5 separate regions of the Homo sapiens genome follow, and regions 1, 2, 4 and 5 are each linked to region 3. Evidence: fine-mapped expression QTL. A gene starts in region 3. Each other region holds a variant in brackets. All regions are shown on one strand. Distances are between the middles of the regions.

Evidence for each region. PIP is the estimated chance that this variant, and not a neighbour inherited with it, causes the effect.
Region 1: its variant is the best candidate, but not a certain one, in a credible set for the expression of ANXA11 in whole blood (TwinsUK, PIP 0.77).
Region 2: its variant is the best candidate, but not a certain one, in a credible set for the expression of ANXA11 in whole blood (TOPMed, PIP 0.76).
Region 4: its variant is the best candidate, but not a certain one, in a credible set for the expression of ANXA11 in whole blood (INTERVAL, PIP 0.55).
Region 5: its variant is the best candidate, but not a certain one, in a credible set for the expression of ANXA11 in whole blood (INTERVAL, PIP 0.84).

What each region holds. Positions count from the first base shown.
Region 1 is chr10:80,565,542-80,569,903 of GRCh38, forward strand. All of the region lies in intron 1 of SH2D4B (SH2 domain containing 4B), which reads left to right. Among named protein-coding and RNA genes, the nearest start is that of SH2D4B, 30 kb to the left of the region's middle. The variant C/CT (reference allele first, on the strand shown) is at 2,550.
Region 2 is chr10:80,251,415-80,255,733 of GRCh38, forward strand. It overlaps LOC100130698 (a long non-coding RNA gene), which reads left to right. Exons shown (of 6, transcript NR_136612.1): 6 at 870-3,994. Among named protein-coding and RNA genes, the nearest start is that of MAT1A, 36 kb to the right of the region's middle. RefSeq lists an enhancer at 2,353-2,472. The variant T/C (reference allele first, on the strand shown) is at 1,976.
Region 3 is chr10:80,203,747-80,208,108 of GRCh38, forward strand. It overlaps ANXA11 (annexin A11), which reads right to left and starts at 1,791. Exons shown (of 16, transcript NM_145868.2): 1 at 1,597-1,791. It overlaps LINC00857 (long intergenic non-protein coding RNA 857), which reads left to right and starts at 3,964. Exons shown (of 2, transcript NR_038464.1): 1 at 3,964-4,362. RefSeq lists enhancers at 70-149, 2,789-3,430, 3,201-4,362, 3,431-4,072 and a silencer at 1,135-2,014.
Region 4 is chr10:80,280,830-80,285,191 of GRCh38, forward strand. It overlaps MAT1A (methionine adenosyltransferase 1A), which reads right to left. Exons shown (of 9, transcript NM_000429.3): 3 at 3,087-3,209. Among named protein-coding and RNA genes, the nearest start is that of MAT1A, 6.6 kb to the right of the region's middle. The variant G/A (reference allele first, on the strand shown) is at 2,197.
Region 5 is chr10:80,172,871-80,177,232 of GRCh38, forward strand. It overlaps ANXA11 (annexin A11), which reads right to left. Exons shown (of 16, transcript NM_145868.2): 2 at 3,237-3,285. Among named protein-coding and RNA genes, the nearest start is that of ANXA11, 30 kb to the right of the region's middle. RefSeq lists enhancers at 3,553-4,054, 4,055-4,362. The variant C/T (reference allele first, on the strand shown) is at 2,233.

The DNA of each region.
Region 1 (4,362 bases), 360 kb after region 3:
TGCACCACCACACCCAACTGAAGAACTTTATTTCTTAAATTTCCTTATTTTTCTCAGATGACAAGAAATCTGGGGGTGTGCTGCAATGGGTAATACTAGTTTAGCTGCTCGATAAGATCACCAAGGATCCCTTCCCTTCTATCTTTTGCCTCCCCATCCTTAGCATGTGGCTTTTATCCTCATGGTTGCAAAAGTTTTCCAGTGGCTCCAGGAATCACTGCTTCATTCCTGGCAGGAAGAAGAAGGTCGGGTAAAAGAGTGAAGAGTGGCCGGGCGTGGTGGCTCACGCCTGTAATCCCAGCACTTTGGGAGGCCGAGGCGGGCGGATCACGAGGTCAGGAGATCAAGACCATCCTGGCTAACACGGTGAAACCCCGTCTCTACTAAAAATACAAAAAAATTAGCCAGGCGTGGTGTTGGGCGCCTATAATCCCAGCTACTCCGGAGGCTGAGGCAGGAAGATGGCGTGAACCCAGGAGGCGGAGCTTGCAGTGAGCTGAGATCGCGCCACTGCACTCCAGCCTGGGTGACAGAGCGAGACTCCGGCTCAAAAAAAAAAAAAAAAAAAAAAAAAAAAGAGTGAAGAGGGAAGGGGTTTCTCCTAAGAAGACTTATCCAGTTTGTTTGGAGAAGAAGAGCCCTTTACATGGAACGTCTGCCTACATCTTCTTTGTCAGAAATGGGGACATCTTGTCACTCATAGATGAATCACTTGCCAATGAGAATAATATTACCTGATGGGATTAGATCAATTTCTTTTTTTTTTTTTTTTGAGACCGAGTCTCACTCTGTTTCCCAGGCTGGAGTGCAGTGGCGTGATCTTGGCTCACTGCAACCTCTGCCTCCTAGGTTGAAGCAATTCTCCCACCTCAGCCTCCCGAGTAGCTGGGATTACAAGCATGCACCATCATGCCCAGCTAATTTTTGTAGTTTTAGTAGAGATGGGGTTTCATCATATTGGCCAAGCTGGTCTGGAACTCCTGACCTCAGGTGATCTGCCCACCTTAGCCTTCCAAAGCGCTGGGATTACATGCGTGAGCCACTGCGCCCTGCCAAATCAATTGTTATTTGTCCTTTGAGGTTGGGGTCAAAACTCACCTTTCCTAAAAGAGGGGGGATCTCTGCTGCTCCCTGAACAACTTGGGGTTCTGTGGTGAGGCAAGCGTGGAGGGTGGGTAGTTAATTGGCAGTGTCTGCTGTAATAGCTACCCATTTTTTGCTGCTTTATCTTTTCCCCTTGCTTAGCAGGATTGGTAATCCTCTTATCATTTATTTTTACCCACTATTAATTTGAAAGTTTTATAATTCTAAGCAGTGGTTGCCTCTCTGTTTCTATCAGTTATAATTAAATCGGTGTTTCTTTACTATATATTGCTTGTAACATACTTAAAAATAGCAATGCACTCCTATATATATCTGGAGAATTACTGCTGTCTTGCGCATGTAGAAAAACCTGAAATTTCAGTAGATTAATATGATGAAGGTTTATTACTTAACTATTTCACAGTTTGATGTGGGTTGGATATTTCTTCTGTGTGGCTTGCTTTCGAATATTGGATCATGGATCAGGCTGCTTTTTTTCCGTGAAATTCCACCATTTATTTCCAGCTGGGTGGACAAGAGTGAAAATGTGGAAAAGGCACACCCGCTGCTAACCACCTTAGCCTGAAAATGGCACAAATCCCTTCCCTGACATTCCGTGGACTAGAATTCGATCACATGGTCCCACTGTACTGAAGGGAAGTTGAGGAATGTAGTCAGTCATCTGTGGGCTGAGGAAGAGACATAGGGTGGTGGACATTGCATTGTCACTGTCCTAAATTGTCATTCTGGCCATCCACACATTTCATTCTTCTCCTCCATCTAAAATACACTCACCACCTCTTATAGGGGACACCTTCAGGTCCCAGCCAGTCACTGCATCCAGCTGAAAGTCCACTGTCTCTGGGGTTCTGCACTGGTCTCTATCAGGTCTGAATGTGCTGAGAAGACATATCATTTAAATACCTGTCACCCCTAAGGCACTATATACAGTGCTGGAGCAGGGTCAGAATACCCACTAAGGAAATGCCACCTGGAAAAGTGGAGAACGTGAGAGCCACAGTCTCCAGTCTATAGCATTTCTGAAGTCCTACAGGTCAGGACCGCAAAGTTTCCCTGCCTTGCAGTGAAGAGAATTCCTTGAGTGAACACTGACTTCAGCCTGGATGAGGCTTTTTGTCTGATTCCCCTTGGCCTCCTCTGAAGGGAGTGTTGAGGATCACACCCTCTAGACCAGTGTAGCCTTTGAAACCTGCCTGCTGGTCATCAAACTTGGATGCCCAAGGGCCATTTAAGTCATGAACAACCAAAGATTTTTTAATCCAGGCTCAAAAACTTAGGGGGCTTCTGTTCGCTTCCATGTCCCAGTAACAACATCTAAAATTCTTTCCTAGACATATTTCTCAACTCGACATTCTTCCTTTGTCCCTTCATCTCTGTGCCTCTCTGTTTCACCTGAAGGACATCTTCCTTGAAGCTTTTTCTAAAAATAAGTGTGAGAGATCACA[C/CT]TTTTTTTTTTTTTTGAGACAGAGTCTTGCTCTGTCGCTCAGGCTGGAGTGCAGTGGCGCAATGAGAGATCACGTTCTTAATGTGGCTATGTTAGTCTGGTTTCTCCAAGGAGTACAGACAGGATGGGATTAATCATGCAAGGGTTTTATTAAGGGAAATGTCTGGGAGAGAAAAAGGGCAGGGAGCTGGAGGAGGCTGAGGGAGTCATTGTAAGCTTGACCTTGAGTGAAGGAGAGGGCAAGGGACAGTGGGCAGAGGTGTTGCAGGCAGCTGTGCAGTCCAGGGAAAGCAATCTTTCGGCAAGGAGGTGGGTGTCTCCTGGGAATGAGCCTAGCATCCTCAATAAAAGGCTAACAGCAGCCTCTGGGAAGCAGGGCCTTGGGCAAACGCAAGGGCACAGGAGCTGCGGGGCTTGGTCAGTGATGCTCCTTGTGGTTGAAGGTGGACGGAGCACATCCTCATGGTCACCATAAGAACTTCACAGAGCCTGACCTGCAGGTGCTGTGTGCCCTTCGTCACTTTATTCACCTTAGAAGTTTTCCTGTGCTCTGTCATACAAAACCTTTAAAAATCCCATCTCTTGCAATGTCGGTCCTGGTATATGAAGAGATGCTTTTTCAATCCTACAACATCTCAAATTTCTGTATTTGTTCTATTCCCTTTCTTTCAGCTTGCAAAGCACTCAGTTCTTTCTTGAATTCATTTCTTTCTGTTAACACCTTGCCAAACACAGTCACTAGCAACCAACACTTATTCCTAATGTTCTATTTTTCAACCTCCTCCCTTAGAATGAAAAGTTCAGAAAGCATGGGGTCTGCTTTTGAAGTTACAGTGTCTAGCTTTTTAACTGAATGTTTTGCTGCTGCATAACATGGATCTCTAGCCTGTTAAACATCGCTCACCACCCAACTGCTAAGGCAGTAACACAGTTTATATTTCTGTTTCAGCAGCACCCTGCTTCTGGGATACATTTTTATTTTAATCCTGTAATCAGCGGAATCTGCTGCAATAGGCAAACTGAGAAATCTCAGTGGCTGAATTTAACACAGGTTTATTTCTTGCTAGTGTCACGGTCTGTTGTGGGACTGGGAGACTCAGGGCCCCAGGCTGCTTCATCTCACACCACCACCTGATTCCTTGTTTCTAGCCAGTGGACATGAGGCAGAGAGTGCAGAGCGGGCCCACCATCTCCTAACTGCCTTGGCCCGGGAGTGACACAAGTTTCTTCCTTCAGAGAGTGCTGCAATGTCCCTTGATGTTCTTGTAGCAAAGTCCAAAGCTTGTACTGCTCACAACACAACAGCCAATAAGTTGAGAGACAAGGCGTTGGGGCAAGGAAAGCAACTTTATTTCGGAGACCCAGCGAACCGAGAAGATGGCAACTAGTGTCCTAAAGAACCTCCTAAGCTAATATGAATTTTGGGTTTCTTTTATGTTAAGGGAAGGGGGAAGAGGCGGGGGGGTTGAGATCAAAGGGTGAGCAATGACTATGGACATCTGGGTGGCAGCGAGGGTAAAGTTCTTTGTCCTTGGTCAGGTCACAATGCTCTTATACATTTTTAACATGACATCGTTACTTGTGTGTACACCCTCTTTGTCTCCTGGGGGGTTCGTTTTGGGGAGGGGCTATTATCATCCTTGCTTTACAGTTAAACTATACACTAAATTCCTCCCATTGTTAGCTCGGCCTATGTGCGGAGGTAAGCAAAAGCAGTTAACCTAAAAGATATCACTGCAGGGGCCGGGAGGTTAGGAGTAAGTTGGAGCTAGTCATGCTCGGCCTCCTTTTCACTGTACATTCTCTCTGCTGGA
Region 2 (4,319 bases), 48 kb after region 3:
ATTATTCTTTATGTCATAGTGCACTTAAAATTTGGTATTACCTAGAAGTTAAAGAAATATGATAACCGTGCCAAACTGCTATCTCTAGGTAAGATTATTCCGTCAGAAAACCCTCTCCCAGTTCCCCTGTAGCTCTTCAGGAATCCCCATCTCCCCATAGCTCTTTGTGCCCATGGATGGCGCTTCCAAAGTAGAGAAGACCGTTTGTCAAGAAGGGAAGCAGAAGGGGGACGAGAGGGTCTTGCAGGCAGAGCTGGAATCGACTTCCACTCTGCTTCTTGCAAGCTGTGTGATGCTAGGTGAAATTTCTCCTTCCTCTGGAGCCTCTATTTTCTTAGATTTGGAGCAGGGTGGTCACACTGACCTTGTAGATTTCTGAGAATCAGAGACAGCACATGAAAAGCCTGGAGGCCATTCTCTTAAGAGTAGCTGTGACTCATGTGTGGACAATGGGCTTTTCATGCTTCTGTTTCTCTCTGTTTATCTGATGCAAGGAACATGCTCCGGTGATGATGGTGAGGGAGGAATTAGGATAGACATAGACACCCCTGTGTCAGAAACATGCTTCTTTATTACTGGGTTATGACTCTGTCTTCCCAGGGACAGGCCCCAGCCTGCGTACATTTGCAGACAGAGTGGCGTGTGGGGATAGCAGTTTGTCCCCACGACTTTTCTTCACTCCCCTGCTGTTGGAAGGACTCAGTTGAAGGGACACTTTATGGCATTGATGCTGCCATTTTGAAACCTGGAGGAGGGAAAGGTGCAAGGGACTATCACCTGAGGCATAAGGTGCAGCTTGTGTTGGTTTTGGTGTTTTTGTGTCCATCATATTCATATATTTCAAAACATTTTCTCCTCCTGACTTGTAGGTCAATGTGGCTACAGGGAAGCCTCATCCTTTCTCAGAATGGCCCTACTTGCCCGATGTCATGGCTGGCCCTTCAGGACCATTGATGGGCTGCCAGCCGCCTCCTCTACCTGGGTGTTGTCTGGGAACTCAAACACTCCCTCCATCTGAAGGTTTTCTGGGACCTCAACAAACTCCTCCACTGGAGAGTCCTCTGGGAATTCAACCACCTCCACTCGACTGTCCTCTGGGAACTCAGCCACCTCCTGCACTAGAGAGTCCCCTGAAAACTTAACCACCTCCTCCACTCGATTGTTCTCTGGGGCCTTATCCAGCTCCTGCAGCTGTCAGTCCTCCAGGACCTCATCCACCTACTGCAGCTGCCTGTCTTTCCGGACCTCATCCACCACCTGCGGCTGTCAATCCTCCAGGACCTCAATCACCTGCTGCACCTGTTGGTCCTCCATGACCTCATTGACCCACGGCATGCATCTGACCTCATCCACCTCCTGCAGCTGTCAGTCCTCCGGGACCTCATTCACCTCCTGCAGCTGTCGGTCCTCCGGGACCTCATCCACCTCTCGAAGCTGGTGGTCCTCCGGAACCTCATCCACCTCCTGCAGCTGGTGGTCCTCCGGGACCTCATCCACCTTTTGCAGCTGTTGGTCTTCCGGGACCTCATTCACCTCCTGCAGCTGTTGGTCCTCTGGGACTTCATCCACACCCTGCAGCTGTAGGTCTTCTGGGACCTCATCCACCTCCTGCAGCTGTTGGTCCTCTGGGACCTCATCCACCTCCTGGAGCTGTAAGTCTTCTGGGACCTCATCAACATGCTACATGTGTCTGTCTTCCGGGACCTCATCCACCTCCTACAGCTCTTGGTCCTCCCAGACCTCATCCACGTCCAGCATGTGTCTTCCCTCCAGGACCTCATCCATCTTTTATAGCTGCCTTCCTCTAGGACATCATTTACCTTTTTGTTCTGTGAGGCCTCTGGGACCTCCGACTACATCTCCACTTAGTAACCTCTGGATCCTCAGCCACCCCTTCTACCTGGGTGGCGTCTGGCCCCTCAATAACCACCTTCACATGAATCTCCTCGGTTACTTCAATAATCTCCATTTGTGG[T/C]CCCTGGGACTTCAGCCACTTCCTCCACCAGGGTCTCCTCTAGTACATCTGCCACCTCCTCCACTTGGCTGGCCTCTGCTATCTGAACTCCTCCAGGACCTCAACCAGCTCCCCTACCCATTGTTGCCTGTAGGACCTCGACCACGACCTCCACATGTACTACTTGGTATATTTATCTGAACAGTATGAACTGAGTTGCAAAATGGATTCATCTTTCCCTTTCTGAATGAATAGAAATGTTACAGATTGTACTGCAGGGCTTTGCACTGGCTGAGGATGTGGTCACTTTGCTCAAGTTTCTGAGAGTACAAGTCAGTTGCATTATTTCCTCATCATGACCTTGGCAGAAGGTATCTTCTGTAGATGAGGAAAGAGTTTTTTTTCATTTTAAGGGGTGGGGGCAGAGTCTTGCTCTGTCACCAAGGCTGGGGTGCAGGGGTGCACTCCTGGCTCACTGCAACCTCCGTCTCCAGGGCTCAGGTGATCCTTCCACCTCAGCCTCCAGAGTAGCTGGGACTACAGGTGTGCAACACCATGCTTGGCTATTTTTATTTTTTAACTTTTTGTAGAGACCACGTTTCACCATGTTGCTCAGGCTGGCCTCAAGCTCCTGGAGCCATGCCATCTGCCCACTTTGGCCTCCCAAAGTGCTGAGATTACAAGTGTGAGCCACTGTGCCCAGCCAGAGGTTATTTATAGAAGCTAGAAATACAAGTTTTGCAGGCTTGTGTGGAACCTGGGCCATATGGCCAGCTCTGTGAGGGATGAGACCCATCCCTGGCTGGCAGGGCATCCTGTGTGCTGCAGCAGAGAGACCCACACTGAAGGGCACAGAGCTTCTGACCAGCCCAATGGAAACACAAGTGAAGGGACACAGGGTGCAGAAGGAGGAGACAGAATCTCCTGGGAGTAAACAGGAGGCTGTGGAAGAGAAAGCTGAAGCAGGGAGGTGTGACATGGGGGGTTGTTGAACTCAGGTAGAGCTGGAAGGCTGCTCCTAGCCAGGCAAGCAGCGTGAGCAGGAGCATGGAGGCTGCGGTGAGGGCCACACAGAGCTGCCATGGGAGCTCAGATACCACATTGTGCACAGGAAATTACCACCCCAGCACTTCCTTGTTGCCCTACAGCCTTTAGTCCATTATCGGTAGGAAGATGATTCTTTCCCTGGGTGCATGAAGGCTCTAGATCGGGGTGAATGAATGCCTAGAGGTCTGAAAATTTTAACTTGGTTCTGTCAGGGGAACCTGTCTCCCTGAGTTTTCACGGCCTAAGGAGACTAACAATGAGGATGGGTCTGGTTCAGTGGAGCTGCGGCCTTGGCCTTCAGAATGAGGCCAACTCTGGCTGGAAACTCAAGGCCAATCCTGAGCTGCTGTGACCTACTCTGATCTCCTGCACCCTCTCCTTCCCACCCACAACTCTCAGCTTTGCATCTCCCAACCTTGGCAGGCAAAATGCTTCCCCTTCCCTGTGTCTTTGCTGCCTAAGCCCAGACACCAACTCTCAGTAGAGCTCAGAGCCCCAGCTTTCTCAGAAATGAGCTGGGAATGATGCGATTATGAGGTCATGGTGAGGACAGGGAGACCAAGCTCATAAGGAAGGCATCTTGCAAAATAGCTGGTAGATGGTAGAGCCTCACCCCTCCCGCTGGTTAAATGAAAATATTTCCACTCAGAAGATCAGCAAAAGGTGTTCATTGAAGTTCATTTAATAAACCTTAGGGTGTAGCAGCTCAGGCTCTGGGATTTCCAGTTTCTCTTTCAAAAGATAAGGGAAAGCCCCTGTCTCCAAGATTAGAATTCAGATCCTTACGAGATGAAGAGATCCTAAAAATGCATACACAGTTAAACTCTGAGATTTGTATCTGTGATCTGTGGATAATTATTCTCCATGACATACAGACACAGATATGGCCACACACAGAAGTATTCAGCAGGGGCACAGATATTTCATAGAAGACAAAATGTATATTGGGCAAAAGAAGGTCACCTGGAAATAAACCGAAATCTTTTTACCTTACAGGATAATTTTGAAATTTGAAGAGTCTCCTGGGCCATGATATCTTGGAAAAGTCTCTACCATATTTGATGCTCCATGTCCCATGCTTCCTCCTCTCTCTCTCATTTCCAGTGTTTCCCTTTAGAAACATTTGCAGTCCTATCTTTCTGGGTGTCCGCTTCCTGGAGGACCAGTTCACACCCCAGGGTATACCAGGTGTGACTCCTCATACACTATTCAAACTCAGGCAGATACTGCCTTGCTGGACACAGAAGCAGGGTTACCCTTTGGGTAGTGTTGACTGGGAAGGGTCCGAGGGGGGCTTCTGGGGTGGGGGAATATCCTG
Region 3 (4,362 bases):
AGCAGGCACCCGGATGGCTCCCAGGAGGGTGGAGAATGCTAGGCCAGACAGGGGAGGGAGGGCATTCCAGTAAGACAGAGAGCATGAGCTTAGCATGAGCTAAGCCAGAAAGACGGTTCAGGAGAAGTGCATTTCAACTTTAGCTGAACCTTCCACTGCTACTATTTATTGACCCTTACACCTGATTATTTATGACCCAGGCCTGCCTCACACACTTTATGGCTAATGTGGGTGACACCCATCTGGGATACACAAGTGTGGTGCAGCAGTCACCACCTGTTCTGACTGGTCCGTACCTGAGCTCTGTATTGTTATTAAATAAATGAATGCACTGAATCTCACAAGCCTGTGAGGCAGGGATTACTATTACCCCCATTTTACAGATGAAAAACCAAAGCACAGACAATAGTCAAAGAAAAGATAGCAAGGTATGCAGGAGCCTGAAGTAGTGGGCACCCAATGCCAGGGCAACAAACTGCCCTGGCACCTCACCTGGCCTCTCTTATCAGGGAACACCTTGCAGCACAAAGAATGCCTTGAGGAAAGGGGCCCTGTTAATCCCCTGGAATCCCCAACAATTGACTGCCGCATAAAAGGAATGAGGAAAGCAATGAGAGCCAGTGAAGGGTGAGCATACCAGGCCCTGCCCTGCAAACCTAGTCCCTGTTGCGTGGGCAGGGCAGGGCAGGGCAGGGCAGGGGCTCGGCCTCACAGCTCCACTCCATGCCCAGCGCAGAGAACAGAGGGGAGAGCTACCACAAACGCCGAATCTCTACAGAGAGGTCAAGGATTGGAGGGCAGAGACAGAAATGCCCCGGGCTGACTGTTTCCAGCTTGGGCTAGCACTGGCTGGCTTAACTTTTCCCCTCCAAAGTCTCTAGGTAACAAACTTCGCGTGTCTCCTTTAAACCAACAGACCATTTTACCTAAGTCTTAAGGGCCTGGCCTGCACCCATGGGAGATACAAGTCCAGGAATCCCTTCCTGAAACTGGGGATCAAGGTTGGGGAAGGGGCGAAGGCACGCACAGCACCTGGGATGGCTCCCGCATTCCCTCAAACACTGGGGAGAGTTCCTTACAAATAAACTGCAATGGTAGCAGCTCCCAGGAATGTGCGTGCTCCCAGTTTCGGAGGAAAGTTCCTGAAGATAGCCTTCTCTGCTTAATCTCCCCAAGCCTCGCCTAGAAGGGCGCGCGCACCCTGGAGGGCTCCGCAGGGCTGCGGGGCCGGGCCTCCGGCACCCCTCCCGCCACCCGTTGCCTCCTGCGCCCAGGGTCACGGCCCCTGGCCCTACCCAGGCCCAGACTGAGACCCCGACCCCTGAGCCCGGGGGGACGGCGAGTGCACCCCGACCACACATGAGGGAGCAGCCCCAGACGCCGAGGCTGATCTAGGGGGCTGCCAGGCCGACACGGCCCGCCCGCGACCCGCCGACGCCCTCCCCTGCCCCCCACCCCCACGCCTGTAGTGCAACCAGGAAGCCGCAGGGCCGCGCTGGGCTGGGCGCCAGGCAGCCCCGGGCCTCACCCGCGGCGCCGCGGTGCACTGCCGCCGCCTGGTCCCAGGCCCCCAGCCGGCTCGGGACCCTCACTCACCTGGCCACGGGGACTCCGGACGCGAGGGGCGAAATGGGACGTGGGCGGGAGTGGCTCTCTCCGCGGGCGTCCCGGGCGCGGCGCCTGGGTTCTGCCTAGGGGCTGGGTCCCACTCCCGCTCGCGGGGCCCGCGGGGCACTCGGGGCACTGGGGAGCCGCGGGCGCAGCAGCCGTCAGCGCCGGGCGGAAAACTCCGCGGGCGCGGCTGCCCCAGGTGCCAGAGGCAGTGCAAGGGAGGGGCGGGGCCTGAGCGCGGCCCCGCCCCCAAGATGAGGACTGGGCACGGCGGGCCCGCGAGGAGCAGCAGCCTTCCGGCTGCGGAGCTGCTCCAGGAAGTCTCGGGCTCCGGAGGTCCCTCTGCCGCCCCTAACCCCTGCGGCGCCCAGTGCCGCGCAGAGCCGCATTCGCCCTCCTGCAGGGGTGGGCATTTCCTAAGTCCTCTCCAGCCCCGTGTGCGTCGGTTAGTGACTCTCTTTAAGGTCGAGAAAACTTTTTACACTGAAAAGGTCAAACGCATTTCCTTTATAGCAACACTCGGTGGTGGTGGAGGGGGGAAGGTCACGCACAGTATGTGAGGAAGGGAGCGGTCAGTGACTATCGTGGAGAAACCTGACAAACCACCCAGCCGTCAAGGTGACCTCGACAGGGGTAAATCATACTGATTGCATGCACCGCTTGTGGTCTTCCTCCCAAGAACACCTAACCCCACTGTAATCATGAGGAAAACATCACAAATCAATTGAGGCCCTTGCCATATACATGACCAGTACTCCTGAAAACTAGCAAGGTCATCAAAAACAAGGAAAGTCTAGGACACTGTCACAGCCAAGAGGAACCCACGGAGATATAAAAATGACTTAAGATGTTAATAATAGGAAAAGCCCGGGTTTATGAGAATTCCCTGTATTCACACTTTTTCTGTAAATCTAAAGATGTTCTAAAAATAAAGCATATTTTTAAAAGGTCACCCAGGTAATATATGCATATATGGTAGGTATACAATTTTTTTTTTTAATGAGTGGTGGCTGACGCCTGTAATCTCAGCACTTTGGAAGGCCAAGACAGGAGGATGGCTTGAAGACAGGGCTTCCAGACTAGCCTGGGCAACATAGTGAGACCCAGTCTCTAAAAAACTAAAAATAAAAAATTCAAAAAATGAGTAAAAATTGAGATTCACTCTTCCCTCCACTCCCCCAGCCCACTCTTAGGTGTGTCCTTCCAAATATCTCTCTTTAACACTGTGTGTGTGTGTTTACATAAACGTATTGTTTACAAAACGATATTGCAGTACTTTTCTGCAACATGTTTTTTTACTCACTATATCTTGGAGGGTCTTTCCATACAAGTGCTCCTGAACAGACCTGGTTCTTCCCATCCACTGCACACTGCGCGCCATCGTGCGCTTCACCATTCTTCATTACCTAGCTCCTTACTGAAGGACATTTAGGTTGTTGCCTATGTTTGGCTGTTACAAACAAGCTGCTGGTTCGATTTTCCTTTTTTTTTTTTTTTTTCTGAGACGGAGTCTCGATCTGTCGCCCAGGCTGGAGTGCAGTGGCGCGATCTCGGCTCACTGCAACTTCCGCCTCCCGGGTTCAAGCGATTCTCCTGCCTCGGCCTCCTGAGTTGCTGGATCTACAGATGCCCACCACCACGCCCGGCTAATTTTCATTTTTAGTAGAGACGGGGTTTCACTATGTTGGCCAAGCTGTTCTCGAACTCCTAGGCTCAAATGATCCGCCCGCCTCGGCCTCCCAAAGTGCTGGGATTACAGGCGTGAGCCACCGCGCCCGGCCCGATTTGCGTTTTAAAGTCGCTCTGAACAATAAAATCCGGAAGGACTGGAGGGGAGGCTCCGACCTTCTCCCTGTCTGGGCAGGTGTGCTGGTGCCGGGCAGGAACGGTGCCTTGGGACAGCCTGGCCCCGGCCTCACAACGGGCCCCGGGCGCTCAGTCATATTCCGTGGCCGCTCCAACACCCCCTACCCCCACCAGCAGGCGCGGCTCTCTTTCGGGGCTGGACTGCATTTTTTGGACATGAGTCGGCGAGTGAGGGTGAAACTCAGGCCAAAGTCTCCAGAGCCGCTCGGAGAAAACGCTGCCTGGAACAGAAGAGCAGAGGATCAGAGGCACCACCAGAGACTCTCAGAGTGGGTTATTACCCTGGTGGGGGCGCCTGCTGCGGCGTAGGAGATGGCGGGACTGGGGGCGCGGGTGTGAAGCCCCCAAGAAATCTGTGTGAATTTCCTGGGGAGGTAAGGTCTCCAGGCGCTCTCTCTGGGCCCGGGGATTGGTCCGGGAAGGTCTCCTGGCGCCTACCCAGCCCCCACTGCCTGGACGCCTGCGCCTGCTCTGCCGCCCCACAGCGACCGCGAAGGCCAGCTTCTTCGAAAGGCCCATTTTTCTCCGTGGCTGAGCGAATGCTCCTAGAATACCACGTTTATAATAAATCATGTAGGGTGGAATTCCTGCTGGATGTATACACCTTTCTGCATCAGAGCTCTTCAAACCCAGAATGGTGAATAGCTACCCCTGGGCTTACCCTTTTATAATTTTCAACAAACCTGCGTTTAGCCCCGGCTAGGTGCCAGCAAGTTGCTAGGGACTGAGGAGGCTCTGCAGAGGACCCGAGCTGAGGCCCTAATCCTCAAGGCCAATGGCAGGGGTCACCGCCCAGGCACCCCCAGAGAACGCGGTGTGAAGGAAAAGACACCAAACTCGGTGTTCAAATGTGTGGGATCTATTCTAGTTCTGATTCTGACACTT
Region 4 (4,362 bases), 77 kb after region 3:
TCAGAAGGAGGGGGCCACAAACTTCCCAATGGATGGCTCGGTTCCTGACATGCCATTTGGTGTCAGCGTGGGGGTTCCCTAACTAGCCAGGGTCTGTCTAGGCCCACAGCTGAGGCCCAGGATGGGAGAGGCCCCGCACCTTCCCACCCTATCATGTAGAACTCTTTGGCCAACCAAAATTCTCCGTGGTGCATTTTACTGTGCTCAATTAGACCTTGGTTAACACACACACACACATCCTACAGAGACCTGCAGATTAAAACAAGGTGATGCCAAGGCTCCTCTGGCTGAGGACGGTGGCTGACTCATACCCTGCCCCTCAGGCTCTCCCACAGGTGCCTCCCAGAATCTAGTTTGAGCATCACTGCACTAGGAGAAAATCAAGAGCCCTTTTGATACTGTCACTCAGAAGCCCAGCTGTATGCCTGACACAACTATTAAACATACTGAACAAATACAGTGTACATGAACTATCCAGACAGACTCCCCAAGCCAGGGTCCTCTGACCCTGAGAGGTACACAGAGTCTGGGGCAAATGGAAAAGCCACCTGCCCTTTCCCATCTACAAAGCTGAGGCACAGGGTGCAGGCCTGCTACACCTAGCACGCGAGGCACTGGTTTGGGGAAGTCTGGACTAGCAGTAGCTCAGCCCTGGGAGTCCCATGAGGAAACTGCTATGCACCGAGACCGTGCGCACCTCCTCACAGCTGTGCTGGGCTCAGTCACAGGGACTGTGAGAATAAGGGACTGAATACATGGACGCCCCCACCACAAGGTCAAGCATAGTGACACACTCACTCTCCAAACCCCCACAGCCATCTTCCTTCCCATCTATTCTCCTACCCACACAGCCTGAAAGGGCTTACAGAGAAAACACACAGATCCAAGCTGCTGTTTCTGTACAAGCTTCAGGTGGGGATCTACTGCCAAGGAATAAAACTGAAGCTTTTCAGTCTGACACAGCCCTTGCTCCTGGGACTCCTTGAGCCAACATGAACTCAAGTTTAGCCATCAGCATGATATACTTTTCCATCTCCACTAGGTCCCTGCCTAGAACGTTCTACCTCCAGCTCCCACCCCACATGCCCAAACCCCACGTCCACTCTCAGTGCATGTCCCTGGACCTGCCTGCAGTTCATTAGACACAATGCCAGGAACTTACCCCAGGGCACCTCATGTTGCATCATATACCCTGGGAGTATCAGGTCACCTTTGCCCTTTACACCCTCCTGTTTCCTAATGAATGTTTTTGAATGCACAAATCAATGAACAGTCTTTAAAGAACTGCCAAAAGCTGTCCTGTTCTGCACTGAACATTTCAGTTTACCTAATCACTGTCTGTCTAAATAATGAATCTCCCCAGGGCTCAAAAATCAAGCAAGGGCTCCAAGGAATTTGGAAAAACAGAACTTAGGGGACCAAGAGGGGAGGTACAGGACTTGGAAAGGACAATGAGCCCAGCAACACCGCAGCCAGGAGCAACGAGGAGCCACTGGCCTGAGACCCTGCTAAGGCTGTTCCTGTCCACTGAGCACAGGTAAATGGACAAGCTTGGGCACAGGGAACCTCAGCCAGCTGAGCTCAACTCAGCCACGGCTGGGCTCTCGCTCATTTCTCCCTTTCTAGGGAACATTGCCTCCTGGAAAATTTCCCTCCTGCCTAATGCAGAAAAAGTTTTGCACTTGAATAAGGTCTAAATGTACATAAACAAATTGGCTTTTTTTTTGGTAGAACAGGCTCCGTGTGGTAACGCCTCAGGAAGCTGCAGCTCTGGGACAATGTGTTTCCTCTGTGAATACCCTCATGTCCCGACCAGGAGAATTAACTGGTTCTTACTGCTTCTCTTCCCACTGAGTCTCAAAATCACTGTCATGCACTCAACCAATATTAATTGCTCATGAGTGCTTTGGGCTGCACCAGGCCATGGCTGGACTGAACCTCTGCGAGTCTGCACCATCATACCATGAGTGGGCTCTCTCACTTACAAACGGGGGTCCAGCACCCTGACCCACAGGATGCTACACATCACCCTAGACAACGATTATGTGACACAGGCAGAAATGAACACCTTTAAAGTCATGCTTCTCTCTGTGCATCTTGATTACAGGTGTATAGCTAGGCAGGATGACCTGGAAGTGGGTCTTTTTGCCATGGCGTGAGGTCATCACATCTCTCACAGTGATTTCAGAGAATTAG[G/A]GAAAGAGCTAACAGAGACCCAAAATGAATTTTTCTTTAAAAATTAGAATTGCCTGAACATCTAATGCCAGAGACCAACGTGGAGACTCTAAGAATTGGGGCCAGAGCCCTGCCCAGGAAGCCAGCATGGACAAAGGGCCCCTGAAGCTCCTGCAGAATGTGATCGCATACAGGCCCTCCGCACCTGGTGTCTGCTCTCTGGGTCCTTTGCTGCCCTCCAGGCTGTGCCGCTGCCTGGCCTGCTCAGTCTCAGATGTTGGAATCTGCTTCAAAGTTCTGCTAGGGCCTGTGCCCCTTCCCTGGGTGGTGGCCCCACACTATGTAGCACTGGTGCTAACCTGGACCAGCCTCGCCTGCTGTCAGCACCAGTTCTGGACTGAGTCATCTTGCTCCATGTCTATGATTGCAAGTAGGTTTAGTGGAAGCACAGGAGTCCTCAGCCTAGTGGCTGCTTACCCTGTGATCTCACACAGACTGTTTACCCCTCTAGGCCTCCATTTCCTCGTCTGCATAAGTACATAAATGATTAAGACAACACAAGAGACTATCACCAGTGCCTGGCAGCGAGCATGTCCCCAAAGGAGGGCAGCCCCCTTTATTCAGTGCATCTTTCTCTTCCAAAGCCTTTGGCAGCGCCAAGAAGGCAAGGCCTAAAACAAGCCCAATCAACAACAGATGGGCATGTGCTGGGCCCACTGGGCATAGTCGCCTGTTGGCCATCCTTATGCCAGAGTCTTTGACCCCTGGAACCTGACAGACAAGTGTAGGAGTGTTTTCCTCCTGGTAGTATTGATGCTCCCATCGGGCTGAAAGGCACGGGTTTGACTCAGCACTGGGGTCTCTATCAGCAGAGAGCAACAGGGATTTCAGACCCGGAGGCCTGCCCTCACCCTTGGCTGAGTCATCGTAGCCGATGTGCTTGATGGTGTCCCTCACCACCCGCTGGTAGTCCACCATGGCCATTGAGGTGATCTCACCACACAGCAGCACCATGCCGGTCTTGCACACTGTCTCTGAAAGGGAGCGGGGAGCGAGGAGAGTTAGCAGCCAAGTGCCAGCAAAGGGAAGCTCACATTCCCAGACCTCTCACAGTGCAGACAGAAAAGACACAGGAGGGGCCTTACGAGGAATGGATTCCAGAAGGAAAATAGAAACGCCAATAAAAAGAAAAAATCCCAGCACCAAGCACTGAGCATCTTCCAATGCTGTCTTGGAAAGAGTCAGTCATAAGCTGTGATCCTGGACAACTTATTTAACCCCTCTAAGTCTCTGTTCCCTCATCTATTTAATAAAGCTATTTATAAGACTGCTATGTGGATTAAAGGGAGATGATGGTTGTATGTAGCTGTCATAAAGAAGGTAGTCCACACATGTGACCCCCCATCCCCCACATTGCTAAACCTCCACTGCAGGCTTTAGGGAGTGGGATCTGGACCAAAAAAAATCAAAGCAGGCCAACCTTCTCTCCAGATATTTACAAAGATATAAGGGTAGAATCTACCTTCAGAGGGGCATGAGTCCCTGTAGTATTCAATACAGGGCTGAGGATGCAACCAGAGAGGGAAGGATGGGTCTGTGCAGTGGACAAGACATGACAATGACAGTAAGGAGAGCAAGGCTCTGGTCTTCACACTGGGGCACCCTACCCCATGGCCTTGGCCAGGCCCTGATGCAGAGGGTACCGTGATCCTGTCTCTAAAATGAACAGGCTGGACCTGATCACCCTGGGGCCCCTCCAGACTCCAGAGTCCATGACTCTGCCACTGTGCCACAGGCTTCAAGCCAGGCAAAGGTTTTCCTGCCAAACAACTTATCCCACAAATAAAGGTGAAGATCTTCAGCCTACATGAGTCTTCAGACACAATAAATTATGCAGATGGGAGCCAGGGCTTCAGTACTTTAGTTTAACATTAATGTCTCTTAGGAAAGCCATTGATTTATTGAAAAACAATTGGTGAAGATGTTGCCTTCCTGTTGCTATTAAATGGGGGACACTAATTATTTTAAAACCTAAATCATACCACAAACTAGGAAAGAAAACAAGAGAAGAAGCCAGGTATCTGTGCAGCCAACAAAGGCTCCTACAATGAGGATGCAGCTTATAACCATCTAGGCAGCTACCTGTGTTTCAAGCTCTTGCATCCCGTCTGGAAGATTCACCTAAGA
Region 5 (4,362 bases), 31 kb before region 3:
TGGAAGAGAAGACGAAAGCACATTCAGGCTCTGCCTGAGAGCCCCTGCTGGCCCGTGGGACCCAGCTTCTTGAAAGGGCAGCCACCACCACAACTGGGACCCTGCAGAAGAAACTGCTGCATCTGCCCTGCTTGTCGCAGACCAGTTCACTGTCTCCTGCTGGTGCCTCCAGCTAGAAACAGTACCCACCAGCATGCTGCCTGACTTCTGGGCCAGGGCCACACCCCCGGCCCCACCCACAGTGACAGGATTCACTCCCCATGAGCCAGTTTCCTTGAAAGGCCCTCTCACTGAAGCTTTGCTCCTGCCTCTGCTGGCAAGGGTGCAGTGCGCCTCTGGGCCTGTTCTCCCACCTCAGAGGTAGAGACGCACTGCCTCATTCTCAGGACTCCAGGTCTGTCTATTTATCTTCCTGTGTCCTTATTGCCATCCCTCCAGCAACAGGGGAAGTCAGAGGCCCCTGTCTCTCTTCATTCTCCAACCTCTGGTTCATCAGGCAAGGGGACCTGGTAAGGTATGGAATCATCGTTCCTAGAAGCAAAAAGGGCCCTCAGGAGGTTCATCTGATGCAGGGTGAAGAACCAGGGCAAATGAGGCAGCATCACCCTGTTTCTGCAGTAGAGGCTGCTGATTAAGAGAAGTAAGTGATTTGCAGATCTGTCAGTAAGGGAGGAAGAGCAGCCTGGACAGGTGCCAGGTGAGACACCTGCTCTCACGAAGTCCCTCTGAACACGGATCCCTTGGCAATGTCCCCTGCCAGTTAAATTGTGAGGAGGGACACAGATCTGCTGTGACACCAGCCACATTGTGCAACCTGCCTGCTCTTGCTAATAGCAGCTGCTGCTGCAGTCTGCAGAGACACCCAATGGCAGGCGGACATGTGAGGAAACCTGCAGGGTCCCTCAACAATCACACCTGCTCGTCTCGAGTATGTGGCTTCTTTTTACACACTGGGTTTCACGCTGCAATGCATATCAGAATCACCTGATGGGATTGTTAAAACACATTGCTGGGCTCCACCACCAAGAGTTTCTGAGACAGTGGAACCAGTTTTTGCATTTGGAACAAGTTTCCAGATGATGTTACTGGTCCAGGGAACTCACTTTGAAGACCACTGTTCTAGCCACGCTATCCAACTATAAGAGTCTAGCTGCCCTTCATATCTATCTTGAAGAACTGGGCATATTGGGTTTTGTTTGTTTGAGACAGGGTCTCGCTCTGTCACCCAGACTGGAGTGCACTGGCACAATCATGGCTCACTGCAGCCTGGACCTCCTGGGCTCAGGTAATCCTCCCGCCTCAGCCTCCTAAAGACATGTGCCACCACACACAGCTAATTTTTTTTTTTGAGAGTCTTACTATGTTGCCGAGGCTGGTATATGCTGTTCTTTTTAAGTTTTTTTATTATTTATTTTTATTTTTTTGAGACAGGGTCTCACTCTGTAACCCAGGCTGGAGTGCAATGGTGTGATCTCGGCTCACTGCAACCTCTGCCTCCTGGGTTCAAGTGATTCTCCTGCCTCAGCCTCCCAAGTAGCTAGGATTACAGGCGCCCGCCATCATGTCTGGCTAATTTTTGTATTTTTAGCAGAGACAGGGTTTCACCATGTTGGCCAGGCTGGTCTCGAACTCCTGACCTCAGGTGATCTGCCTGCCTCGGCTTCCCAAAGTGTTAAGATTACAGGCATGAGCCACCATGCCTGGCCTACTTTTATTTTTTAAACAGCGTCTCACTCTATCACCCAGGCTGGAGTGCAGTGGTGCGAGCTCAGCTCACTGTAACCTCCGCCTCCTGGGATCAAGGGATTCTTGTGCCTCAGCCTCCAACAGGAGGGCGCAACCATCCCTGGCTAATTTTTGTATTTTTAGTAGAGATGGAGTTTCGCCATGTTGGCCAGGCTGGTCTGAACTCCTGGCCTCAAGTGATCTGCCCGCTGCGGCCTCCCACAGTGCTGGGATTACAGGCATGAGCCACTGTGCCCAGCCTACATGCTGTTTTTAAGGAAGCTAAAGAACTTCCTTAAGGTACCACCGGTCCCCATAGGGTGGGCCTGGTTTTCAGCCCTACGGGTGTAGTCATTTGTTTGGGTCAGTGGGTCCAGAGGTGACCGTAGGCAAAGCCCTATGGCTTTGGAGAAAGCTGGAATTGGCTCCCTGTAGTGTGGACCAAGGACCTACTCCTTGCAGTTTTCGGTCTCTCTGAGCCCCTAAGCACGTGGTGGATGAGGTCCC[C/T]GGTGGCATCACCTTCAGAGAGGGTGTCCCTGAGGCTGGGTGGGCTGTCAGTACAAAGCCCTCCCCGTCCCGGCCCCAGCCTGACCCTTCTGCCCAGACTCTGCCAAACCCTCAGACTTCACTGGTGAGGAGGTAATCTGGGGGATGTAAATGACCAGTAGGCCAGGAACCTTCTAATAGAAGGAACTGCCCGACAGGTGAGCAGGAAGAGCCGGGATGGTGTCTCTGTCACCTTCCTCTCTGGAGACACCACTAGGCAGGACCTTTGAGCACCAAAGACACTCTCCACTCCTGGCCTCCTCTCAGAGAAATGAAGCCAAAAGCTCCATCCACAGCCAGGCCAGGGAAAAAACCCAAGAAACAGAAGCTGGATACCACCCTGTTCCTTATACCAAGTAAATTCCAGCCAGGCCAAATAATGCAGTGAAAGAAGTAGCCCCAAAAACCAACGACATAAATAAAATTTCAGCATAAGAGACAAATTAAAAAAAAATAAAGATGAGAAAAAAACTTAGGAAAAAAGTTTTATTAATATAATAAGAAAAAGATCAATAACCACTAGAGAAACTGTCAAATGATGTGAACAGATCTGGCAGTTACAGAAAAGGAGCTGAAGATGCTCACCTTCACCAATGTGCTGAGGAAATCACCAATTAAAAATACACAGATGTCGGCTGGGCGCAGTGGCTCATGCCTGTAATCCCAGCACTTTGGGAGGCCGAGGTGGGCAGATCACCTGAGGTCAGGAGTTCGAGACCAGCCTGGCCATGGTGAAACACTGTCTCTACTAAAAATACAAAAATTAGCCAGGCGTGGTGGTGGGTGCCTGTAATACCAGCTACTCGGGAGGCTGAGGCAGGAGAATGGCTGGAACCTGGGAGGCGGAAGTTGCAGTGAGCCAAGATTATGCCACTGCACTCCAGCCTGGGTGACAGAGCGAGACTCCGTCTCCAAAATAAATAAATAAATAAAATACAAAGATATCAAAACTTAAAATGACATACCTTTGACTCAGCAACTCCACTTCTGTAAGTCTCTTCCCCAGACACACACCTGTGTGAAATGTCATACAGACATGAATTTTACTACAGCCTTATCTGCAACAACTCCTAAACCTCCACCAATGAGGCTGGTTAAATAAACCACAACAGATCCAACAATGGATACTCTGTAGCTATTTCTGGATTTAGCCAGCTCTGTATATGGAAAGATGCAATGACCACCATTATTAATCAAGGTGCAGTACTGTGTATGTACTAAGCTAATAAAAAACCCAGAAACATACAAACTAAGTGGTTCCTGAGTGTAGACGTGCACGGACATCCTTGGAATGACACACAAGAAACTAGCTAACACTAGCTGCCTCTCGAGAGGAAAGGTGGGGCTAGAAAATGAGGCTTCCGGTTTAGATCTGTTCCCTGTGCATTTCTGCTGCATGTATGTATTGGCCATTAAACAACTTTTAAAAAGGCCCAATTCAGGTGCAGATTTCTGAGCTCACTTGAGGCTAGCCGTCTGGCCCCCAAAGTCCTGGCTGGTCTTCCAAGACTAAAAGAACACACACAGGGTCCATTCAGTTCCAGGCAGCCTTGGTAACCCTGGAGGGCCTGCAGGCCAGCCTTGATGGCGCTCGTGGAGCTCATTCTTGGGGTGGCTTTTAAGGGAGTTCCCAGCAGGAGTCAAAATCTGCCTCCTGGCTAGGAGCTCTGCCCTGCATGGCCCCACAGGGCAGGTCGACCCCACTGTGAGCTGTGGTCCTGCGACCCTGGGTCTTCCCCTCTCCCCAAGATATACCTCTAGTCCTCCGTTCTTAGAAAGAATAGCCTCATTTTTCCCTCTGTCATTCTCTGCCTGAAATAGTTTCAAGCCTGCTCCCCACTTTTTTTTTTTTTTTTGAGACGGAGTCTCACTGTGTCACCCAGGCTGCAGTGCAGTGGCGCAATCTCAGCTCACTGCAACCTCCACCTCCTCGGTGCAAGCAATTCTCCTGCCCTAGCCTCCCAAGTAGCTGGGACTACAGGCACCTGAGGCACCTGCCACCACACCAGGCTGATTTTTGTATTTTTAGTAGAGACAGAGTTTCACTATGTTGGCCAGGCTGGTCTCGAACTCCCAACCTCAGATGATCCG